Linked DNA regions of Homo sapiens. The main gene of each other region encodes a partner of the protein of the gene in region 6 in a complex. Each region holds a gene or a part of one and is shown on either strand. Other genes may lie near its edges.

The links.
Region 1: SNRPD1 (region 6) and RBM48 share a complex: the UniProt entries of both Homo sapiens proteins name them as parts of the minor spliceosome.
Region 2: SNRPD1 (region 6) and PRPF6 share a complex: the UniProt entries of both Homo sapiens proteins name them as parts of the U4/U6-U5 tri-snRNP complex.
Region 3: SNRPD1 (region 6) and PRPF4 share a complex: the UniProt entries of both Homo sapiens proteins name them as parts of the U4/U6-U5 tri-snRNP complex.
Region 4: SNRPD1 (region 6) and LSM3 share a complex: the UniProt entries of both Homo sapiens proteins name them as parts of the U4/U6-U5 tri-snRNP complex.
Region 5: SNRPD1 (region 6) and SNRPB share a complex: the UniProt entries of both Homo sapiens proteins name them as parts of the SMN-Sm complex.
Region 7: SNRPD1 (region 6) and PRPF31 share a complex: the UniProt entries of both Homo sapiens proteins name them as parts of the U4/U6-U5 tri-snRNP complex.

What each region holds. Positions count from the first base shown.
Region 1 is NC_000007.14:92,531,795-92,535,294, reverse strand, and holds part of RBM48 (RNA-binding protein 48), read right to left. Parts: intron 2,892-3,500; coding exon 2,746-2,891; intron 1,058-2,745; exon of another isoform or gene 894-1,057; coding exon 325-893; coding exon of another isoform or gene 211-324; exon of another isoform or gene 1-210. UniProt on the Homo sapiens protein: As a component of the minor spliceosome, involved in the splicing of U12-type introns in pre-mRNAs.
Region 2 is NC_000020.11:63,987,632-63,991,131, forward strand, and holds part of PRPF6 (pre-mRNA-processing factor 6), read left to right. Parts: intron 1-3,500. UniProt on the Homo sapiens protein: Involved in pre-mRNA splicing as component of the U4/U6-U5 tri-snRNP complex, one of the building blocks of the spliceosome.
Region 3 is NC_000009.12:113,278,658-113,282,157, forward strand, and holds part of PRPF4 (U4/U6 small nuclear ribonucleoprotein Prp4), read left to right. Parts: intron 1-287; coding exon 288-474; intron 475-3,500. UniProt on the Homo sapiens protein: Plays a role in pre-mRNA splicing as component of the U4/U6-U5 tri-snRNP complex that is involved in spliceosome assembly, and as component of the precatalytic spliceosome (spliceosome B complex).
Region 4 is NC_000003.12:14,181,817-14,185,316, forward strand, and holds part of LSM3 (U6 snRNA-associated Sm-like protein LSm3), read left to right. Parts: intron 1-2,120; coding exon 2,121-2,216; intron 2,217-3,500. UniProt on the Homo sapiens protein: Plays a role in pre-mRNA splicing as component of the U4/U6-U5 tri-snRNP complex that is involved in spliceosome assembly, and as component of the precatalytic spliceosome (spliceosome B complex).
Region 5 is NC_000020.11:2,461,142-2,464,465, forward strand, and holds the end of SNRPB (small nuclear ribonucleoprotein-associated proteins B and B'), read right to left. Parts: intron 2,759-3,324; coding exon 2,606-2,758; intron 2,087-2,605; coding exon 1,948-2,086; intron 1,907-1,947; exon of another isoform or gene 1,811-1,906; intron 1,621-1,810; coding exon 1,495-1,620; intron 799-1,494; coding exon 788-798; 3' UTR 653-787; coding exon of another isoform or gene 615-652; 3' UTR 501-614; downstream 1-500. UniProt on the Homo sapiens protein: Plays a role in pre-mRNA splicing as a core component of the spliceosomal U1, U2, U4 and U5 small nuclear ribonucleoproteins (snRNPs), the building blocks of the spliceosome.
Region 6 is NC_000018.10:21,629,314-21,631,666, reverse strand, and holds part of SNRPD1 (small nuclear ribonucleoprotein Sm D1), read right to left. Parts: 3' UTR 1-2,353. UniProt on the Homo sapiens protein: Plays a role in pre-mRNA splicing as a core component of the spliceosomal U1, U2, U4 and U5 small nuclear ribonucleoproteins (snRNPs), the building blocks of the spliceosome.
Region 7 is NC_000019.10:54,125,754-54,128,983, reverse strand, and holds part of PRPF31 (U4/U6 small nuclear ribonucleoprotein Prp31), read right to left. Parts: intron 2,485-3,230; coding exon of another isoform or gene 2,457-2,484; coding exon 2,367-2,456; intron 912-2,366; coding exon 784-911; intron 680-783; coding exon 607-679; intron 1-606. UniProt on the Homo sapiens protein: Involved in pre-mRNA splicing as component of the spliceosome. Required for the assembly of the U4/U5/U6 tri-snRNP complex, one of the building blocks of the spliceosome.

The DNA.
Region 1 (3,500 bases), on a different chromosome or scaffold from region 6:
AGAACTACCTGGGGAGCTTTTAACAAAAATGGCAGGCCTGGGCTCCACTCTCACAGATTGATTTAATTGGCTGAAACCACTGCTTTAATATTTTGTATCTACAGTGATATAAAATGTCTGTTCATTGTTTAAAGCAAGTATTAACAGTTTAAAGCAAATAAAATGTTAGCCAAATTCAGTTATTTCAACAGAGAACTGTAGAAAAACACATCAAAACACTAAAAAGTGAAAAAAAATTACAGTACTATTGTTCCCACAAATAATTCTCCATTTAATCCTATAACCAAATCGTGTCTTAGAATAGTTTTTTAAAAATAACCTTACCTCTTTAAGTTTATGCCGAATTAAATTCGCCGTTGTATTCAATGAGTCATCGTGCATATCCACTTTAGAGATGTCTGGTAACAGAGGTCCAATCATAATCTCATTACCAGTTGGGTTTGTTTGAAGAAAAGTTCCAAGTTTACGATCATCTTCTCTTCTTCTTTTGCGCTCCTGCAGTTGTGTTGTCCTAGGCATAAATCTGTCAACTGCCTCTGAAGACGTAATAGCCTTTTGTGCACCAGGGCAGGCCACTGAGTTTTTCAAAGAGTTTATCTGTGTTTTCCGCAAAGAGTCATTGTGGTTATAATGCCCCATTGTTTTATGATGGTTTCTACCATCCTTAGAGGAGTCTGGTGCTCTGTCTACAGGTCCCCCGGATGAACACATACATTTTGAGGAGAAATAACATAAAGGCAATTCACAGGAATACGGAAGATAAGGATTTGAGTTCCCTGCAGAAGTGTTCAAAGCAGCTTTACAAAATCCAGACATCTCTGAGTGGAAGTCTTGTCTAAAATCCTCTGTGTCTTTATGCTCTGTAACCAATTTCTTCTTTGTCACGTAATGGTCTTTATATTACAATTTAAAAGTTGAGGGAAAGGGAAACAGAAGTGGTTTATTGTTTTCATCATTCAGAATCATATAATTTAAAAAAATCACTTAAAAATGTTAACAAATTCTACTCCAAAAAAATCATTTCTTGAGAAGGGTATATATTCACATGGTTTAAAACCTAAAACGGATAAAAAGATATATAGCATCAAGTGTCACCCTTTCCTTGCTCTCCATGGGTCTGGTTTCATCCCCATAAGTAATCACTATTGTTTTTTATTTATCTGTTCAATATGTCTCACTTTGCCACCTCCTTCCTCCCATTTTCTCCCCACTTTAAGATAACCTGTAATACGCATTTCTCTGCACCTCTGCATTTTCCATTTCACTGTAGATCTTACAGAGGTTTTTCATCATTATATAGAAAGGTTTTTTTTTTTTTTTTTTTTTTACAATTTCAGAGTATTCCACTATCTGGATGTATCATGCTCCTTGGCTTGTGTTTGTTAGTCACTAAAGAAAGCAATATGCTTGTCGCACTTCTAGGGCTGGCAAGGGCCTCTTCCCTGGTTTACTCTCCCAAAAGCAGATTACAACAGGAATGGAGTATGGAAGATGTGGTAAAGATGAAATTGGCTATGTGTTGATGATTGTTAATGTTAATATTAATACATGGGAGTTATGTTAACTTAGTCTCTCTGCCTGTGTGTTTTGAAATTTCCATAATAAGAGTTTTTGAAAAGTAAGACCACGTATACAAATGCATCTTGTAGAGGCTAGAATGCTGCAGATGAAAGAGAGCTTAACTAAAGTGTCCAAGGCCAAACAAGTCATAGTTTAATTCTGAGGTCAGCAGCACAGCAAAAAGGTCTTAAGAGGAAGGGGAGCAAATAATGAAGATAATCCTAGGCTGTCACCAACACTGAGATGATTAAAGCAGTTAAAAAGTAAACTCTGGACAGAGTCCAAAGCTTGGGTTTTAACCCTTATTTTGTCTTTAATTCATCTCTAATAATATAGGCAGGTCACAAACTTTCTGAGACTTAGTTTCCTCACCCAGAAAAATTAGGACCCAGGTCAGATAATGTCAAAGGTCTTTCTCCACATTAATATTTTATAATTTCCTTTGCCACACAAACATACAAGTTTTCCTGGTGCTATTTATTTACTTATCTTACAAGTTAGAGTTCAATGTCTGCAGATGACTGGGGATTCTCAACAGCTCTCTTACCAGATTTCTGAGTAAGTTTTCCAAGAGTTTTCCCACTTTATTTCTCTCCATCACTATGTGGTAGAACAGGCATGTGGGGGCATTTAGCCAATTGCTGGTCAAAAGTAGAACTTCTCCATGATTAGCAGTGACAACTATATGATTTGACAACTGCAAATCATAACTGCTTCTCACTGCATTCTGGTCAAAGCCTTAATTCCTTAGCATGGGACACAAGGCCCTCCATGATTCACTTCTTACCCACTTTTCTAAACTTATCTCTCACTGAAACCTTTGGGCTTTGGTTATACTGTATTAATTAAAGTTCCTTAAATGCATGATGCTCATTTATTCCTCTAAACATTTAAACATCTTGCCTGGCTTGCCTTTCCATCTTTTCCTCTCCCATTTAGTTAACGTCTACTTATCCTTTAAAATTCAGCCACTTCTCACATACTATAGGAAGTCTTCTATGAACCAATATTTCTCCCTTCTCAACCCAGATTATGTAGTGTGCTGCAGAGAACCCTGTGGTTCACAGTTACTGAATACTGTGATGGTTTACTTGCCTCTCCTACCACTAGACTGGGAATTGCATGATGACACACCTGGCAGAGTGCCTGACACACAGGAGGCATTTAGCAATATGCTTTCCATACCTTTATTTTCAGTAGTTTTTACTACATATGCCTTCCGCATTTGTAGTTTTTTTCTAGTTTCTTCAACTGTTTCAAATTCTGGAGCATAGCACACATGAAGCAATCCACCGAAGAAACTCTGTTCATCCATTTTTCTCTTGGCTGTCCTGAATGGAAATACAAGATAGCATAGTTTTTTAATCTAGATTTACTTGGGATGAAAGCTTAACTAGTATGCAATATCTGGATCTAAAGAGCAAAGTCCAGCTTTTGCTACGTGTATATATATCCTGTGGATTGGGAATTAAGATGCTCTGCTTGTGGACAGTATTCATCCCATTGATCGAGTATGTACTCGTAGAGCCTCCCCTTTCCTTCCCTTTGAGCCTCTTTGTTCCCTAGTCTTTAAACAACTAAGGACCCAGCTGGTTGGCCTGAAGTATGTAAACTGTGGTCATAAAATGGAGCTTTTCTCTGTGGCCCTGAAGAGTTGGTTCATACCCAATTAAGCTTTTTCAGCACTATGTATTTCTGTGATGGGATTCATGCCTTAAAAATCAGATGAAAGATACTATAATCATAAAACATTCAATAACTGAGGAACTATTAAATATATAACAATGAGAAAATGAGAAGAATGTTATTCAGTCAATAAATACTTACTAAACATCTATGACTGGCCAGGTACTACAATAAATTTAACTACTTCTATATCCAGGGATAATGATAAATACTTGTTGAGATTTCACCATATGCCAGGCAATGTCATAAGCGCT
Region 2 (3,500 bases), on a different chromosome or scaffold from region 6:
GGGCATCCAGATTGGAAAAGAAGAAGTTAAATTATCCTTGTTTGCAGATGATATGATCTTATATTTAGAAAACCCTAAAGACTCTACCAAAACACTATTGGAACTGACAAATTGATTAAAGTTGCAGGCTATGCCCCCAGGTGTGGTGGCTCACACCTGTAATCCCAGCACTTTGGGAGGCTGAGGGTGGGTGGATCACCTGAGGTCAGGAGTTTGAGACCAGCCTGGCCAACAAAGAGAAACCCTGTCACTATTAAGAATACAAAAATGGCCGGGCACGGTGGCTCACGCCTGTAATCCCAGCACTTTGGGAGGCCGAGGCAGGTGGATGACTGGAGGTCAGGAGTTCGAGACCAGCCTGACCAACGTGGTGAAACCCTGTCTCTACTAAAAAAATTACAAAAGTTGCCAGGCGCTGGGACTCACGCCTGTAATCCCAGCACCTTGGGAGAGTGAGGTGGGTGGATCACTTGAGGTCAGGAGTTTGAGACCAGGCTGACCAACATAGTGAAACCCTGTCTCTACTAAAAATACAAAAATTAGCTGGGTGTAGTGGCACACGTCTGTAATCCCAGCTACTCAGGAGGCTGAGGCAAGAGAATTGCTTGAACCTAGGAGGCAAATGTTGTAGTGAGCTGAGATTGCACCACTGCACTCCAGCCTGAGTGACGGGGCAAGACTCTGTCTCAAAAAAAAAAAAAACCAAAAAACAAAAATTAGCCGGGTGTGGGGGTGCACGCCTGTAGTCCCAGCTAGTTGGGAGGCTGAGGCAGGAGAATCGCTTGAACCCAGGAGGTCGAGGTTGCAGTGAGCTGAGATTGCACCACTGCACTCCAGCCTGGGTAACAGAGTGAGACTCCATCTTAAAATAAAAGAAAATATCCATACTACCCAAAGTAATTTACAGATTCAATGCAATCCGTATCAAAATACTGGGGACATTATTAACAGATAGTGAAAAAATAGCCAGGTGCAGTGGCTCATGCCTGTAATCCCAACACTTTGGGAGGCTGAGGCAGGTGGATCACTTGAGGTCAGCAGTTCGAGACCAGCCTGGCTAAACCCCATCTCTACTAAAAATACAAAAATTAGTTGGGCATGGTGACAGGTGCCTGTAATCCCAGCTACTTGGGAGGCTGAGGCAGGAGAATCACTTGAACCTGGAAGGCAGAGGTTGCAGTCAGCTGAGATCGTGCCATTGCACTCCGGCCTGGGCAACAGAGTGAGACTCCGTCTCAAAAAAAAAAAAAGAAAAAGAAAAAATAATTCTAAAATGTACATGGAGCCAAAAAAGACCCAGAATAGGCAAAGCTATCCTGAGCAAAAGGAACAAAACTGGGGGAACACTTGACTTCAAATTATACTACAGAGCTGTAGTAACAAAAACAGCATAGTACTGGCAGAAAAACAGACACATAGACCAATGGAACAGAATGGACCCAGAAACAAATAGGTACCTCTACAGTGAACTCATTCTTGACAAATGTACCAGGAATATTTATTGGGGAAAAGACAATCTCTTCAATAAACGGTGCTGGGAAAACTGGATATCTATATACAGAAGAATGAAACTAGACCCCTCTCTGTCACCACATACAAAAATCAAATTAAAAGACTTTAAGACCTCAAGCTGAAACTACTAGAAGAAAACATTGGAGAAACTCTACAGGACATTGGACTAGGCAAAGATTTCTTGAGTAATACCCCACAAGCACAGGCAACGAACGGAAGCCAGGTGTGGTGGCTCGCTCCCGTGAGCCAAGAGTGCGCTACTGCACTCCAGCCTGGGCCACAGAGACTGTCTCAAAAAGGAAAAAAATAAAAAGTTCTCATTATAGAATATTAGGAAAATAAGAGTAAGTATGGGTAAAAGCATAACATTTATTCATAAGTCTAGAAAGTAACAGTTAACATTTTGGCTCATTTCCTCTTTCTGTTGCTTTTTTTTATCTTGGCTCACTGCAACCTCTGCCTCCCGGGTTCAAGCAATTCTCCTGCCTCAGCCTCCCAAGTAGCTGGGATTACAGGTGCCTGCCACCACGCCTGGCTAGTTTTTGTATTTTAGTAGAGACGGGGTTTCACCATGTTGGCCAGGATGGTCTCAAACTCCTGGCCTTGTGCTCCATCCACCTCGGCCTCCCAAAGTGCTGGGATTACAGACGTGAGCCACTGCGCCCAGCTCTGTTGCTTTTTATACATGTAATCATAACTTCCTGTGATGTATGTAGAATGTTTTATTTTTTGAAGATAATTTTAGAATAGTAAAATATAGTTCTTCTGGAATTTTATTTATTTTTTATTTTTTTGAGTCTCCCAGGCTCAAGTGATTCTTCTGCCTCAGCCTCCCAAGTAGCCGGGATTATAGGCACGCGCCACCACACCTGGCTAATTTTTGTGTTTTTAGTAGAGACAGGGTTTTACCATGTTGGCCAGGCCGGTCTTGAACTCCTGACCCCAAGTGATCCACCCGCCTCAGCCTCCCAAAGTGTTGGAATTACAGGTATGAGCCACCGTGCCCAGTCTTGCCACACACTTTAAACAACCAGATCTTACGTGATGTAAACTTGCTGCCTCGAGGACAGCACCAGGCCATCAGGGGTCTGCCCTCAAGACTCAAGTGGCCTCCCACCAGGCCCCACCTCAAACATTGGGAATTATAATTCAGCATGAGATTTCATGGGGACACAGATGTAAACCATATCCTTTGGCCTCCCAGAGTGCTGGGATTACAGACATAAGTCAATGTGCCTGGCCTGGACATCTTTTTAGAAGCTCGTTATTAAATCATTGTGCATAAATTTTATACCTATAGTAATTAAACGTGAATGGCATTGCATTTCACTTTTTTTTTTTTTTGGATACAGGATCTTACTCTGTCACCCAGGGTGGAGCGCGGTGGCTTGATTATAGCTCCCTGTAACCTTCAATTCCTGGCTCAAGCGATTCTCCTGCTTCAGCCTCCCAGGTAGCTGGGATTACAAGCACGTGCTACCACACCCAGCTAATTTTTCTTTTTTCTTTTTTTTTTTTTGAGATGGAGTCTCACTCTATTGCCCAGGCTGGAGTGCAATGGCGCAACCTCGGCTTACTGCAACCTCCGCCTCCAGGGTTCAAGTGATTCTCCTGCCTCAGCCTCCCAAGTGGCTGGGATTACAGGCATGCACCGCCACGCCCGGCTGATTTTTGTAGAGATGGGTATTTTTAGTAGAGACGGGGTTTCACCAATGTTAGCCAGGCTGGTCTTGAACTCCTGCCCTTGTGATCTGCCTGCCTTGGCCTCCCAAGGTGCTGGGATTACAGGCTTGAGCCACCACGCCAGGCTCACACCCAGCTAATTTTTGTCTATGTTGCCCAGGCTGGTCTTGAACTCCTGGCCTCAAGTGATCCACCTGCCTCCCCTAACCTTGGCCTCCCAAAGTGCTAGGATTACAGGCATGAGTTACTACACTCAGCCCTACATTTTAAAAATTGATTGGAACCTCCAGGGTTAATGCATTTTA
Region 3 (3,500 bases), on a different chromosome or scaffold from region 6:
GATGTTCTGTACTCTTACTTGCTGGTCTCAGCCAAAGTGTGTGTTTATATAGGCACAAAGTTAATAAATGAAACAAGAGGTGGCTTGAACCATTTTCTTGCCTTTTGAAGCTGTGTCATTTAGGTTTATGTGTTTGGCATAATTTAATAAACTGAAAAACAGTAAACTATAAAATGTGTAATAGACAGTTACTTTTCCCTCAGGGCATACACAGACTGCAATTACTAGAAATTATTTCTCTCTATTTGAAGAAGATCTGCTGATGTTGCCTGTTTTCTTTTTAATAGGAGAAGTGTTTGAAATTGAAGAGCATATCAGCGAGCGACAGGCAGAAGTATTGGCTGAGTTTGAGAGAAGGAAGCGAGCCCGGCAGATCAATGTTTCCACAGATGACTCAGAGGTCAAAGCTTGCCTTAGAGCCTTGGGGGAACCCATCACACTTTTTGGAGAGGGTCCTGCTGAAAGAAGAGAAAGGTTGCCTTTCTAAATATTTACTTTTTTTCTTTATTATAATCACAGGGTTCTACTCCAAATTTTGGTTGATCATTTAGTTGAACTTTAATAGAATGTCTCAAATCATGTTAACAATATCTTACTGTGTTTATATGAGTTAGCCCATAATCTGTCTTAGGCCAATTTTTACCGCACTATTAATGTTTCTTTTTTGTGTTTGTTCGTTTTTGTTTTGTTTTGTTTTGTTTTGTTTTGTTTTGTTTTGTGTTTTGAGACAGAGTCTTGCTCTGTCACCCAGGCTTGAGTGCAGCGTCGTGATCTCGGCTCACTGCAGCCTCCGCCTCCCGGGTTCAAGCGATTTTCCTGCCTCAGCCTCCCAAGTGGCTGGGATTACAGGCACCTGCCACCACATTTTTCTTTTTTGTATTTTTAGTTATTTTTTATATTTTTGTATTTTTAGTAGAGACAGGGTTTCACCATGTTGGCCAGGCTGGTCTTGAACTCCTAACCTCAAATGATTTACCCACCTTGGCCTCCCAAAGTGCTGGGATTACAAGCGTGAGCCTTCGTGCCTGGCCCGTTTTTCTTTATAGACTTGGAAGAGGGTGCTAACATGCTCCCTTGCCTCCCCTCCCCAGTGCGAGTTTTGAATTGGATAAACATTTGTTGTTGGGCTTTGAAAATTGAGACATCAAATGCATTCCATATCAATGACATAGAACAATGATAAATGTTTCTTGGATTTTATTGAAGAGGGGTACCATCCTCAGATAATGCCCTCTTGTTATTTGCAGGTTGCGAAGTCTTAGTTGTGGTCTAGTCACACACAATTATGAGGAGCCCCTCTGGTCTCTCTGTCCACTGTCTCATCTACCCTTCATCATCCAGCTTGTTGGAAGGGTTTTTTCTATTACTCCCTTGAGGTCCTTACCCTTATTTACTCTTCAACCTGCTGCAAACTGACCAACCCCTACCACATTAAAATTGCTCTTTGTTAAGATCACCAATCCACCTTTACTAAGAATAGCCCTAGTATACTGCCAGCCACTCCTCCTTGAAATACTCCCTCCTTGAACTACTCCCTTTCCTTCACTCTCCTAATAACAAATCCTCTTGATTTTCCTCTTCTCTCACTAGCTAATTCTTCTCACTTACCTTCTAAACCTCTTTTTCTCTGCCTGCCCTTTACAGGCTGCCTTTTTCTCTACTTGCCCTTGGTGATCAGCTCTACTCCCATGGCATCATTCACTGTGTGTTCTGATGATTCCCAAATCTCTCACTGCAGCTTAGGTATCCCACAGGTACTTCAAACTTGAGACATCTGAATTGAAATATTTCCCCACCTCTCTCCTATACTCATACAATTCTTAGTTGAAAATCTGCCTAGCCTCCTTTATAATCCATTAGCAAAATCTGGTCTGTTCTACTTGCGAGATACAACTCCAGCTATCTTCTTTGCTCTATCTTTACTGCTTTCAAATCTGCACTGTTGTGATAGCCCCAAACATGTTGTGTTAATTGCTTGCTTAAAATCCTAGATTGTCTTCTCATACTTGGAGTAAAAAACTCTTACCATGGTCTGTAAGGTCTTCAGCCTTACTCATGTCTCCCTTCCCCAATTTACTAGAATAGCCACATTGGTCCTTATGGAATATGCTAGTTCTTTTTATGTCTTTCCACATAATTGGTCTACTTTTATTCTTCTGTCTTGTCTTTTAGAGGCTTTTTTTCTTCCTTTTTTTTTCTTTGAAACGGAGTCTCGCTCTGTCACCCAGGGTGGAGTGCGGTGGTGCAATCTCAGCTCACTGCAACCTCCACCTCCCAGGTACAAGCCATTCTCCTGCCTCAGCCTCCCAAGTAGCTGGGACTACAGGCATGTGCCACCATGCCTGGCTAATTTCTGTATTTTTAGTAGAGACGGGGTTTCAACACGTTGGCCAGGTGTTGAACACCTCCTCAAGTGATCCTCTCAACACCTCCTCAAGTGATCCGCCTGCCTGGGCCTCCCAAAGTGCTGGGATTACAGATGTGAGCTACCGCGCCCGGCCTTTCTTCTTCATTTTTTATTAACCTGGATCCCTGTCAAACTTCTTATTCTTTCGTTTCAGCATAGATGCCACCTATTCAAAGAAGCCTTTCGTCACACCTAACCCCTCTGTTCTCTGTCATAGTATGTTATTTTATTAGCCTTTTCAAAGGGTATACTTTTTTATTATTGTTTAGTTTGTTTTTTCCACCAGCAAAGTCTATCTTATTCATTATTATGTTCCTTAAATGAATCCTTTGAGTCACTACTGCTACTATCTGAATTTCAGTCCACGGTTGTGACTCAGAGCGTCACTACAACAGTACTGTCTGATTTCCCTGCCATTATTCTTCCCTTTTAATCCATTCTTTGTACTGTTTCAGGGATCTTTCTCATCTGTAAATCCTCCTGAGCGTGGCATTAGCAATTCTTTGTGACCTGGCTCCTCCTTGCATTTGCAGCCCTATTCTTCACCAGTCCTCTTCTATGTTCTACGCTCCAGCCATATTGAATTATTTGTGACTGCAAGCTCAACATGTTTTTCTTACCTCCAGGCCTTATTTGTTTAACCCTCTGCCTGACATTTTCTCATTCTTGACCCCCTTGACCTGATTAACTGAGGACTCAATTTACATATTACCTTTTTTTAATGAAGCCTTCCCTGATCCTCTAAGCTTAGTTAGATGCCCGTTACAAAGTCCCCTCTAGCCCTCTGTGCTTACTGCTATAGTGATAGGTAATATAATGGATTATAGTTTGCCAGTACTCTCTGTTGTTTCCCCAGGACTAAGCTACTTGAAATCAAGAACTGATTCCTAGTCATCACTGTATAGTTAGCACCTGAGTCAGTATCCAGTACATTGTGGCACTGAGTGAAAGTTGGCAGTCTTCACAGACCAAGTGGTAGCAGTGTAGGGGCTCATTGACTCTAAACTGTATAGAGTAATTGCTTATAGTTGAATTTTGGAAATTTCCAAATAGAGAAGACTGAGTGGGAGAAACCACACTGGGAGTTTAGCCA
Region 4 (3,500 bases), on a different chromosome or scaffold from region 6:
GGCATGTATTCACATTTTTAACATTTTTTCTTTTAATAGAAATACGTTTATTATAGAACATTTTTATTCCCTTCATTTTTCCCTTCTGTTTATTTGTAAATAATATTTACTTGTCCTCCATTCGTAAATGTTTTTTAAATTTAAAACACAAATATGTGTTTTATTAGGAAAAGTTAAACAGCACAAAAATATATAGAGTAAAAAGTGAAATCCCATTTCTTCTACTGGTAATCACTACTAAAAATGGGATTATCTTGGCCAGGTGCAGTGGCTCATTCCTGTAATCTCAGCACTTTGGGAGACTGGGGCAGGAGGATCACTTGAGGCCAGGAGTTCTCTGTGTTGCCAGCCTGGGCAACATAGAGAGACCCTGTCTCTACAAAAAATAAAATTTAAAAATTGGGTTACCTTTTCTGTATGTTTACACATATACACTCATATATGTACATGTGCACATACTTGCATTATGTACACCCTACCTCTACAAAACATGGATCTTGCCATACATGTTTTTCAGTACCTTTTTTTTTTTTCACTTAATCTTTCTTGGAAATTGATCATGAGTGCATTTAATTTTCGTTTATTCTTTTTAATGACTACCTAGGATTCTGTATATGATAGTGATCGATTTTTTTTCATTTCTTGCTACAAATACGTAAATACTTGCAGTAAGCATTTTTTTACATATTTCTTTGTGCATATCTGCAAAATATCTGTAGAATTGGTCCCTTGAAATAATCCCATTTGTTCATAGAGAACCCTGAAGGTTTTGCCTCTCCTTAATGACTTGTTACTTTCCTAAGTGTGTTGTTTTTAGTATTGCTACTCTACCCTAAAGTGATTAAAAATAGCTAACATTTATTGAGCATTAATTATAGACCAGGTACTATTATTCTAAGCATTTTGTGTGTGATATCTCATTTAATCTTTATAACAACCCTATGATGATACATACTAATTATTCCTGCTTTGCAGTGTAGGAAGCTCAGGCTCAGAAAGGTACAGTCACTTGACGGTAAAGGGAGAGCCAGAATTTGAATCTAGGTTGTCTGACCTGAGCCCCACTCTTAAGTACTGTGGTTCCGCCTTCCACAAAACCTAAAGATAAAGAACCTCTGGGCTTGGAAAGGAAATAGGGACCCAGGGAGACAATCTACAGCTGGCCTTAAAGGAAGAGAGACTCCAGGAAAGGAATGGTGGTAACTTTGGGAATACAAATGGAATTGAGTTTAATTACTTAAGTTTGTGGCTCTTGGAGGCTTCTTCAGTTCCCTGTGTAAACTTGATGGTCTCTATCCTAAATGGCCCCAACTTTCTGTTTGTTTTGTGCCTCTCAGCTATACATGTTTGATCTTGTTAGTGTGCCCTGCTTAGCAGTTCCCCACATGGCTGACAAGTGACTTTTATTTTGATGTGAGCAGGTGAACCATGTAACACGTTGTTAGAAGTAAACTTGAGTTCTGAACAAGGTCCCAGAAAGTGCACCTTTTAGTAAAATGAATGAACTTTGGAGCTTGGATTGAATATCTTAGCTGTAACATTTATTGATTGAGCCCACAGGTACTAAACACATTTAAGTTCTGGATAGGTTAGAAATGGGCAGGGTGTTGCTCTACTTACTTTCTCTCTGCGACATGTGGTCTACTGTGTGCCTTTAGAAGACTGCAATGGCATTATCTTACCAGTAAACAAAGGATTTTATCTTCTTTACTGTATTTTTCTTGTCAGATTGTTATAGGTGAAATTGAAGGATGTCTACTGATAAATGATGAAGATGAATCTGCTGTTTTTCATAATTAAATATTATAAATGATGTGACTGCCTTAGATAACAAGTGGGGTGGAGACTTTAAAAATAATTTCAAGTGATTTGAAGTAAATTTATTTTTGGCAATATAAGCAGTTTTATATTTTTATCAGGTCAATTAAGTAATCATTGGAAGTGACTTGTGAAGAAACAGTATATTAGTACTGTAGGATTACTTTTTATTTGCATGTAAAAGTTTGTGATGTAAGTATCAAATGCCCTAGTTGTAATTGAGCAATTTGCATATTGTTAAGCCTTTATCATTTTTGTAATTTGATTATTAAATTTCTTGGTTCTGTACCCTCCCACTTTAGGCTTATGATCAACATTTAAATATGATCTTGGGAGATGTGGAAGAAACTGTGACTACTATAGAAATTGATGAAGAAACATATGAAGAGATATATAAAGTAAGTCATGCAATTCTATTCATTGCTTTGCAAATATCAGCTGTTCTCTCTCGAACAGCTTAACCCATATTTATGGGAAGCCTGTCATGTTTTGACACCTACTTATGGACTCAGTAGAGCATAGCAATTAAAAGCAAGGGTTCTGGCATCTGACAGACCCTGTTGCCAGTACTGGCTTGACCACTTCCTACTTGGGCTACCTTGGGCAAGGGAATTAAGTTAGCTGAGTTCTCATTGGTGAGCAGGAATACTACCACTTACCTCATAGGGTTCCCAGATTCAGTGAGATACAACAATGCAAGGTGGCTATGTATAATAGTGTGTAACAGTAATAGTGGACAGTGTTCTTTCGTTTTCTGTGGATTTGATCTATTAATACTTAATTTATTAGAAACTGAAACTGAAAAATTTTTTAAATATTTATTCATTAAAAAAACCTGGGCCGGGCGCGGTGGCTCACGCCTGTAATCCCAGCACTTTGGGAGGCCGAGGCGGGCGGATCACGAGGTCAGGAGATCGAGACCATCCCGGCTAAAAAAACGGTGAAACCCCGTCTCTACTAAAAATACAAAAAATTAGCCGGGCGTAGTGGCGGGCGCCTGTAGTCCCAGCTACTTGGGAGGCTGAGGCAGGAGAATGGCGTGAACCCGGGAGGCGGAGCTTGCAGTGAGCCGAGATCCCGCCACTGCACTCCAGCCTGGGCGACAGAGCGAGACTCCGTCTCAAAAAAAAAAAAAACCTGGCCAGGCATGGTGGCTCACACCTGTAATCCTAGCACTTTGGGAGGCTGAGGCAGGTGGATCACCTGAGGTCAGGAGTTCGAGACCAGCCTGACCAATATGGTGAAGCCCTGTCTCTGCTAAAAATACAAAAAATTAGCTGGGTGTGGTGGCATATATCTATAATCCCAGCTACTTGGGAGGCTGAGGCAGGAGAACTGCTTGAATCTTGGAGGCGGAGGTTGCAGTGAGCTGAGATTGTGCCATTGCCCTCCAGCCTTGTCAACAAGAGTGAAACGCTGTCTCAAAAAAAAAAAGGCTGGGTGCAGTGGCTCATGCCTGCAATCCCACCACTTTGGGAGGCCAAAGCGGGTGGATCACCTGAGGTCAGGAGTTCGAGACCACCCTGGCCAACATGGCAAAACCCTGTCTCTACTAAAAATACAAAATATTAGCCGGCCGTGGCGGCAGGCACTGGCAATCCCAGCTACTCGGGAGGCTGAGGCAGGAGAATCACTTGAACCTGGGAGGTAGAGGTTGCGGTAAGCTGAGATCGTGCTACTGT
Region 5 (3,324 bases), on a different chromosome or scaffold from region 6:
TACACAGTAACTTTACAACAGTGTTCACCTTATTTTTGTACCCTTAGAGCTTGATGCACTAAGTACTAGAGTGCTGCTCAGTGAACACAGGCTTTGGGTGGAAGAACTCATGAAGATACCACAATTCAAAAGTTACGTTAGGTTATATGTTACGTGTGTGACCCTGGCAGAAAGTTATGCCAAAATTGTTCCTCTCCCAGCAGAATTTTCATTTTTAGCATTTGCTTCATGGAGAAGCTATCTAGACAAGTGCCTTCCCAAGAGGATATTATGGGTACTGATTTCAACAAAACTGATCTTTGAATCTGATAAGTGAAAATGTTCAATTTTGTAAGTATCTTAGTGTATGAGGATGTACAGATGCAAATGGGTAGTAAAACATTTTATAGGGAAGAAGGTAAGATCAGGGTTAATTTTTTCCAAGGCAACCCTTCTTGACTCTATTAAGCACCCAATATATCAAAGATTTTTCTAAAAATAAAGATCCATAGGTGCAATTATAATGTTCTCTTAAGAGTTTATTATAAACCAGTTTCATAGGCCACAAGGAGATAAAAGGACTATGTACAGCCTTACGGGAAACAGGCAGGGAGCTGAGGAGGGCCAAGATGAGTCTAGGGCCTTGGTGGGCGCATTCCCGGGGGAGGGGGCCCTGTAAGGGAAACCAGACAATCCCATGAGACTCCACGAACAACAGCATAAGAAACAAACAGGTCTGTGGTAACGTGGCCCTGAGGAATCGAGCCCACGCCTCTGCGGAGCTACTTCCATACTCTGTGGCCAAGGGTCAAAGAAGGCCTGAAGTAAGAGTAAGAAGTTTAGTCAGTGCCTGATCTGCAACTTGAATCCCCAACCCTGCCCCAGCCTCCCACGCCCTGCAGTAATCGAGTGAGGAGAGGGGTATACATGGCATATGTGCTAACTAGGGACTACTCTGAGGCTGACTGGGTTCCTATGTCTATAAAAACCCATAGAGGAATAATCCAGACTAGAGAAACAGGGGTCACCAAGTTTGCCCATGGGTTATCTTATAGGGAAAGAACACTGGGCTTGGAGTCCAAACTCCCTGGGGGCCTATTTTCTCATCCATGTGGGGACTGATCTCAGAATTTCTCCAACTGAAGTTAAAGAGAAATCCATAATAGTACAGCAAAGCCCAGAGCCCCCTCTTAATTACTAGGCACTGTCAAACCAAAGAGCATAAGACAATCTCATAACTTCTGTTAGGGATCCTCAGAATGCATTATTTCATTGTGTCCTGAGGCCGCTGCCTTAGATATTGAGAAACACCCTGGGTGCATGGCTGCTCTAACTTTTCTAAGAGGGGAGGTAAGCCCAATTTAAGAAATGTTCCCTCTTCTCTTTCCTTTCTGGATTTCCCTAGATTTAAGGCTTGAAAGCCCATGGGATATGATCTAAATGCAATCTTCCCTCCATTTCCTATCCCACTAGGCTCTAGGGAAAGAAGCCAAAGTCACCACTGCAGGCACTTACCTCGCATCCCAGGGGGAGGAGGCCGCATTCCCGGAGGGGGCATGCCCATTGGAGTCCCTCTTCCAGGGGGGATCCCCATTGGGGGACCCATAGGAGGTCTCATACCAGGAGGTGGGCCCATCATGCCTGCAAGAGAAAAGCCCCAAGAATATAGCTCAAGTGTCTATCTTGAAAAGGTAGCAAAAAAACTACAAAGCTTTCCACCAAGTTCTGAGATAGATGGACCATTCCACCCTCTCAGCAGCTCCCAGAAAACTGACATTTGAGCCTAACACCCAGGGCTCCCAATGGCTCTTGTCCACCTAGTCTCATCAGTCAGCCACGCTGGATCTCAGAGTAATCCTGCTTAATTATACAAACTCATCATCAGCTTCAGTCAAGGTTATATCTCATCATTAATCCAGCTAAGGCATCTTCTATCAATTAGCACTGGTCTCCTTATGGGCTCCTCACCTGGAGGGGGTGCTCCTCGGCCCATAGGTGGGGGAGGACCCCCACGGCCAGGTGGGTACTGGGTTGGAGCCCCGGCAATACTGGCTGTGGCAGCAGCTGCAGCGGCTGCAACAGTACCTCTTCCTTGTGGGGTCATCACCTAAGAGGACATAAGAAGAAAGAGTTAGAAGAGTACAGTACAATGCAGCTTCCCACTCTCCTCCCCAACTTGGGGAAGGACAGTGGGAAATAACAGACACCAAATCCCTTAATGCTACAACTCTCAGCACCAGACTTCCCATCCAAAACCACATGTCGGGAAAGATCAAGCTTGAATGCCCAACTCCCATCTTCTAGACCTGAATGTAAGCATGTCCAATCCAAGTGAGAGAAGGCAACTGCATTTTCAAATATGACTCATGATTTCAAATGCTGTCATGGAAATATTTTCCTTAAATACAGTTGGCTAATTCGTACATCTCTTTAATAGCATCAACATAATTTACAATGGCAACTTATCCTTTTCACTTGCTTCTAGGGCCATGTATAAACCACAGTGAAACACTGATAGTCTGACAATCACAGGTTGGTCACTCTGGACCCTTTTAAAACTATGGACCCTCCCCTTTATCCTTTATTTTAGCCACCAGGAGGTGGTACCCTTTCCCCAACTCCTCACCTGTTGGGATGGCCCGCCAACCCCACGGACTGGCCCAGCAAGTCCTGCAGGAGCCTGGGGCATGGGAACCCCAGCTGGGATTCCTCTGCCAGCAGCCCTGCCGATCCCTGGGCCCCCGGCAGCTCCAGCAAGTGGAACTCGAGCAATACCAGTCTGAAAAATAAACAAATATGCTCTGATGCCCAGTGATCTGAAGATCAGAAGTATACTTTGGAATATCATTGCCAAGAGAGCCCCTCGAAATAGCTTATAAATACTATCGAAATAGCTTATAAATACTACCTCTCCATGTGTGCCAACACCATTCTTCCTCCATCCAAGACTATGAGTTATCCCTGAAGCAGGGTAGAACTTAAGAGTAAGTCTAGAGAAACATGCCACAACTCAACCACCTATATGCACTCCTGTGAAAGTTAAACCAAGAGCAAAGGGCCAGGGTTCCACTCAGGGTTCAGCAGGCAAGGCATTAAAGGGACATGAGATCCATTCCCAGCTGATTCTAATCCGCTAGGTGACAATGGACAAATAATCCCACAATCCCGGGCTGAGTTGCCTTATCTGCAAATGACATGGTTATGGTACAACTGGTTGTGATCACAAAGGTTTATGATGGGTTATGTTAGACCAGCCAATTCTACTGGAAGTAGGTACTAAGAGATTTGAATATGTACATGGACTTTGAACCAAGATATGCTAACATCCCTTGCAGACATTTTTAA
Region 6 (2,353 bases):
AGGTCAGGAGAACGAGACCATCCTAACACAGTGAAACCCCGTCTCTACTAAAAAGACAAAAAATTAGCTGGGTGTGGTGGCAGGCACCTGTAGTCCCAGCTACTCGGGAGGCTGAGGCAGGAGAATGGCCTGAACCCGGGAGGCAGAGCTTGCAGTGAGCCAAGATCGCGCCACTGTACTCCAGCCTGGGCAACAGAGCAAGACTGTCTCCAGAAAAAAAAAAAAAAAAAAAAAAAAAACGTGTGGAGAAAAATTACATATTGGTTGTATCTTGTCAAGCCAACTCACCTTTAATATATTTACTATTAAAGAATTGTCTTAAGTCTGGCCAACATGGTGAAACCCCGTCTCTACTAAAAATACAAAAAAATTAGCTGGGTGTGGTGGCGCACGCTTATAATCCCAGCTACTCTGGAGGCTGAGGCACAATAATCTCTTGAACCCGGGACGCAGAGGTTGCAGTGAGCCAAGATCGCACCACTGCACTCCAGCCTGGGTGACACAGCAAGACTCTGTCTCAAAAGAAAGAAAGAAAAAATTGTCTTAATCATCATGAATTTCATACATCCCTTTTTGGATCATAGAACCTGTAATACAACTGGGTGACCACTGCCAATAATTTGTGGGGGAAAAAACGCTAATTACTATATAACTTCAATGACTTACAAAAAAAAATTATCAACTGTGGAAAAATCAAAAAGCATTTGAATTTACTTGATGAGGTAAGATACTTAAAAAAATATATATCTAGTATTTATTTATACCAATATATACATTTATATATCTAATATATATGACAGGTACATTCTACATGTATACTAATATATCTATTAGTATATATTTATATATTAGTATAAATACATATATATATAAATACATATATATATCTCTCTCTCGATTTTTTTTTGAGACGTAGTCTCACTCCATCGCCCAGGCTGGAGTGCAGTGGCACAATCTCGGCTCACTGCAACCTCCGCCTCCTGGGTTCAAGCAATTCTCCTGCCTCGGCCTCATGAGTAGCTGGGATTACAGGCGCCTGTCACTGCACCTGGCTAACTTTTGTATTTTTAGTAGAAATGGGGTTTCACCCTCTTGGCCAAGCTGGTCTTCAACTCCTGACCTCGTGATCCACCTGCCTCGGCCTCCCAAAGTGCTGGGATTACAGGCGTGAGCCACCACACCCAGGCTAAACTTTTTTAAGGTAACGATCTTTGCAGAAAATTTCTTTACTTAAAAAAAAAAAAACTCACATACATGATGAAAATACAGATTTAAGCCACCCACATCCTCAGTTGTTTTCCTTAGCATATAAATACTTCGTAGTAAGCTTTACAAAGAACTGATGCACTGAGAGACATTTTTTCTGAGCTTAGCAAATCAAAAACAATTTTTAAAAGTCCTTATTAACAATTAGAACAGTTTTGCTGTCAAATAAAGTAGGTCTTTTCTCTTTTATTCTCAAAGAACCCCTTAATAAAGGAGGCACTGACAGGTACATTACACATTAATAGGAGATTTTAACACTGCTCATAACTGATAATCTAGTGACCATTAACTCCAAGTTATAACTTGGAAAACATAAAACTATATCCTATTAAGAACTGATTAAAAAGCAAAAGAAACAAAAGTAAGACATTAGCAGCTAGACAACAAAGCAATGACCCTTAATTTAGAAGACAACTTTTTACCAGGTACCTAAGACTCCGTGGAGTAAAACTCAGGAAAGGAGAATCAATTCTAGACCCCATCCCATAAGGACTTTAGTTTCCGAAATACCAAAACAAACTTCTTACTTCCCCTGTGGGTAGGTGCCACAGAATGAAGAGTAAAGCAATAAAATGCATATTCAGTGCATGTGAAGTAGAAGGGTATATATCCTATATATATTGTTAAGTTTAGCCTAAAGTCTCTTTACATATCTCAAGTTCAGCTTAAAGGTTTCTCAGTACATAGAACTGTAGCCTAACTGGACGTGTAAACAGACGGTACCCTACTCTTGTGGCAATCACTAAGTTTCAGCCAACCAAAGACAGCGAACTGTTCAAACCATATTCAAATAAGGCAAACGCTGAACTGTAACTAATCCGGCTGTTGCTGTATCTCACTTCCATTTTCCATACATCACTTTCCTTCTGTCCATAAATCTTCAACTATGCAGCTGGGCTGAAGCCTCTGAGCCTATTATGGTTCAGGGGCTACCTGATTTGTGAATTGTCCTTTGCTCAATTAAACTCTGCCAAATTTAATTTGTCTAAGGCTTTTATTTTAACCTTATTCATCATAAAAAGAAAAAGAAAAATTTTAGTTCAAAAACTTAAAACCTGATCAACTAAAAATGAAACTGCCCAGTAGA
Region 7 (3,230 bases), on a different chromosome or scaffold from region 6:
CCAGCCCGAAGCCCAGCGGTCACCAGCCGGCCGGTCCCACGGGCACCTGCTCCGGTACCCACTCGGCCCGGCTGAGGCCTGGGGGCCCACACACGCGGGGGATGCTGGGGAGCCTGAGAGGGGCCCGGTCCCAGCACTGCTCTGTGAGCTCAGAGTTGGGAGGCCATTCCTTCCTTACTCGTGTGGGTCGGGGGATGTCAGGAACCAGAACAGGTTTAATAGGATGAGGTGGCCTCTGAGTTCGGTCCTGCAGGACCAAGGGGATGACGCTGGGATAACAGAGGAGACTGGCGGGGCCCAGGGACGGGGCGGCCGTGCAGCAGGGCACTAAGGAGCCTCTGGGCAGGGAGGAACCGGCCAAGGAGCCCGGGGCGATGGGAAGCCGCGGGGGCTCTAAGCAGCGGAGACACAGGCTCCAAGGGTCGCGAGGGTCGCTTTGGGGCTGAACGGATGGAAACGAGAATAGAGGCCGGGGGGGGGGAGGCTGGGGCAGCGCCCTAGACATGAGCCAGGGCCACAGGACGAGAGGAGGGGCGGTGGCAGGAGGCAGAGGGCGGTGGCGGCTGGCTGGCTGTGGGGTTGAGGAGGGCGCTCTGGGAGTCTGACCTCTCCGAAGCTCATACGGTTGGCCTGCTTCCGGATCTCCGTCAGCCCCAGCCGCTCCTTCATCTTGCGGTACCTGGGGACGGGTGGGTGGGCGGCGCCAGGGAGTCGGCTGGGAGGAGGACGCCGGCTTCTCCCCTCCATGACCCCCATGCCTACCGGACCCCCAGGGCCCCTCACCTGCGGCCGCCTCGCTTCTTCCGCTGTCCATCCAGGGGCGCAGGCAGCGGCTTCACCTGCTTCACAGGCGGCGGCTCCTGCCACTTGTCGAATTTGCGCTCGATCTCATCCTTCAGTTCGTAGCCCACCTGGGGAGGGCGAGGGGGAGGTCCTGCAGCTGCTCGCGTGGGCTGCCCACCCAGGCCTCCTCTGAGCGGGCCCCCCGAGTATCCACGTGCCTTAGTTAAATCAGCACCTAATGCTGCCTCACCGCCACCCCCTTTCTTTTTCTTCTTGGTGTTGACTTAGCACCGCTAGACGCAGGACAGAGTTCACCTGTTGACTGTCTCTTTGACCCGGCCCCAACAAGAATGTCCACGCCACGGGGCAGGGGTCCTGTCTGTGCTACTCACAGCTGCACCCCCACACCCAGACCAGGGGTGAGATGGGGAGAGGGAAAGGAGAAGGGGACACGGAACACCTGAACGCTGTGCCAGGCCGGGTGCTTGGCAAACGACAGTTCACAAGACAGAAAACGTCTCCTCTCCCGAGTACATCTACCAAGGAAGACAGAAGGTAACTGAATAATTACTTGAATAACATCCCCTGTTGCAGCGGGGACAGATCCTGGTGTGGAAGGCAAATTACGCCCCCACCAACACACACATGCCCAAAGAGGCCCATGTTCTAATTCCCAGAATCACAGGGCAAAAGGGACGTGAAGAGGTTAAGAAGGATTTTAAGGATTGTGAGCTGGGAAGACTATCCTGGACCATCTGAGTAGGCTCAGTATAGCCACAGGGGCCCTTAAAATAGAAGAGGGGAACAAAAACAGAGGCGGAGATATGAAGACAGAAGCAGAGTCAGAGAGAGGTCTGAGGGTGCTATGTGGCTGGCTCCGCAGACAGAGGGAGGGCCACGAGCTAAGGGGTGCCAGTGACCCCTAGAAGCTGGAAAAGACCAGGGAATGGATTATCCCTTGAATCCCCCAGAAGGAACGCTCCAGGATGACACCCTGACTTCAGCCCAGTGAAACTCATTTTGGACTTCTGACCTACAGGACCACAGATAATAAACCTGTACTGTTTTTTGTTTTTGTTTTTAGATGGAGTCTCGCTATGTCACCCAAGCTGGAGTGCAATGATGCAATCTCAGTTCACTGCAACCTCCGTCTCCCAGGTTCAAGCAATTCTCCTGCCTCAGCCTCCTGAGTAACTGGGATTACAGGTGCGTGCCACCACACCCGGCTAATTTTGGTAGAGATGGGGTTTCACCATGTTGGCCAGGCTGGTCTCAAACTCCTGACCTTGTGACCCGCCCACCCTGGCCTCCCAAAGTGCTGGGATTACAGGCGTGAGCTACTGCACCCGGCCACACCTGCACTGTTTTAAGCCAGTAGGTTCATGCTACCTTCCAACAGCAGACCTAGGAAACCCCACTGGGGAAGGGGGTGCCTGACCCCAGGGAGGGTGGGCAGAAGCACTGCCTCCGCCTTGGTAGGACAGTGCTCGCTGGGGTGGGCTCCCTGCTGAGGGTCTCCCTGCAGAGACACCCCAGGCCCAGAGGAAAAGACGCCCGGCCGCCCCTCACCTTTCCCTCCTCACCTTCCCTTCTGTGCTCTCGTGGAAACTGTCCACACGGGCTGCCAGTGTGCACTTGGCGGCCACCAGCCGGGCCGCTTTCCGCCGCAGATCCTGGAGCAACGGAAAACGGGGGTGGAATCTGTGTGAGACAGACAGACAGAGGTAACAGCAAAGCAACCGCGCGCGCTCCTCCTCTGGCTCTACCTGGGGTCCTGGAAGGGGGCTTTCCACCCTTGGGCTCTAGAGGTGTGTGCTCTCAGCTCCTACTTCACAGGAAGAGGGGATGAGGGCAGGGCACAGAGCCATGTCCCAGCTGATAAGTGGCCATCAGGTAAGGATGACAGTAAGGCACGCTGACAACGAGGACGGTGGTGACTGTGGAGACGCCGGGGGGAGTGCACTCGGCCTGGATGCCAGCCCCATGCTAAGCACGCCCCTCGGATCATCTCATCAAATATTCAAATATCGGGCTGGTGTGATCATTGCACCCCCTTTTCAGATGTGGAAACCAAGGCTTCAAGTCATGTGGCCAGGGAGACAGCCAGCAGGTGATGGAGCCAGGGTTCCAATCCAAACTGCAAACAGAGCCCAGCTGTCAGCCACAGTGAAGCGATGGCCAGCCCTGGCCTCCCTTACAGGCCTGTGGTGTCTACGGCCTGTGCCTGGACCGATGTGAGATGGCCAAATGAAGAGGCAGAGGCCTGGGTGACAAGACATCAGGCTCCCTGGGGCAGGTTTAACCCATATGCCCAGGGCTGTGAGGCGGTGGCGATGGCAGGGGTGCAGTGAGGCAGCTGGAGCCCCGAGCCCCAGGCCCACCCGTCCTGGGTTCTATCGCCCACTCTCTCTCCTCCCAGGATGGGGTGACCTGCCAGCCTCCCTGGG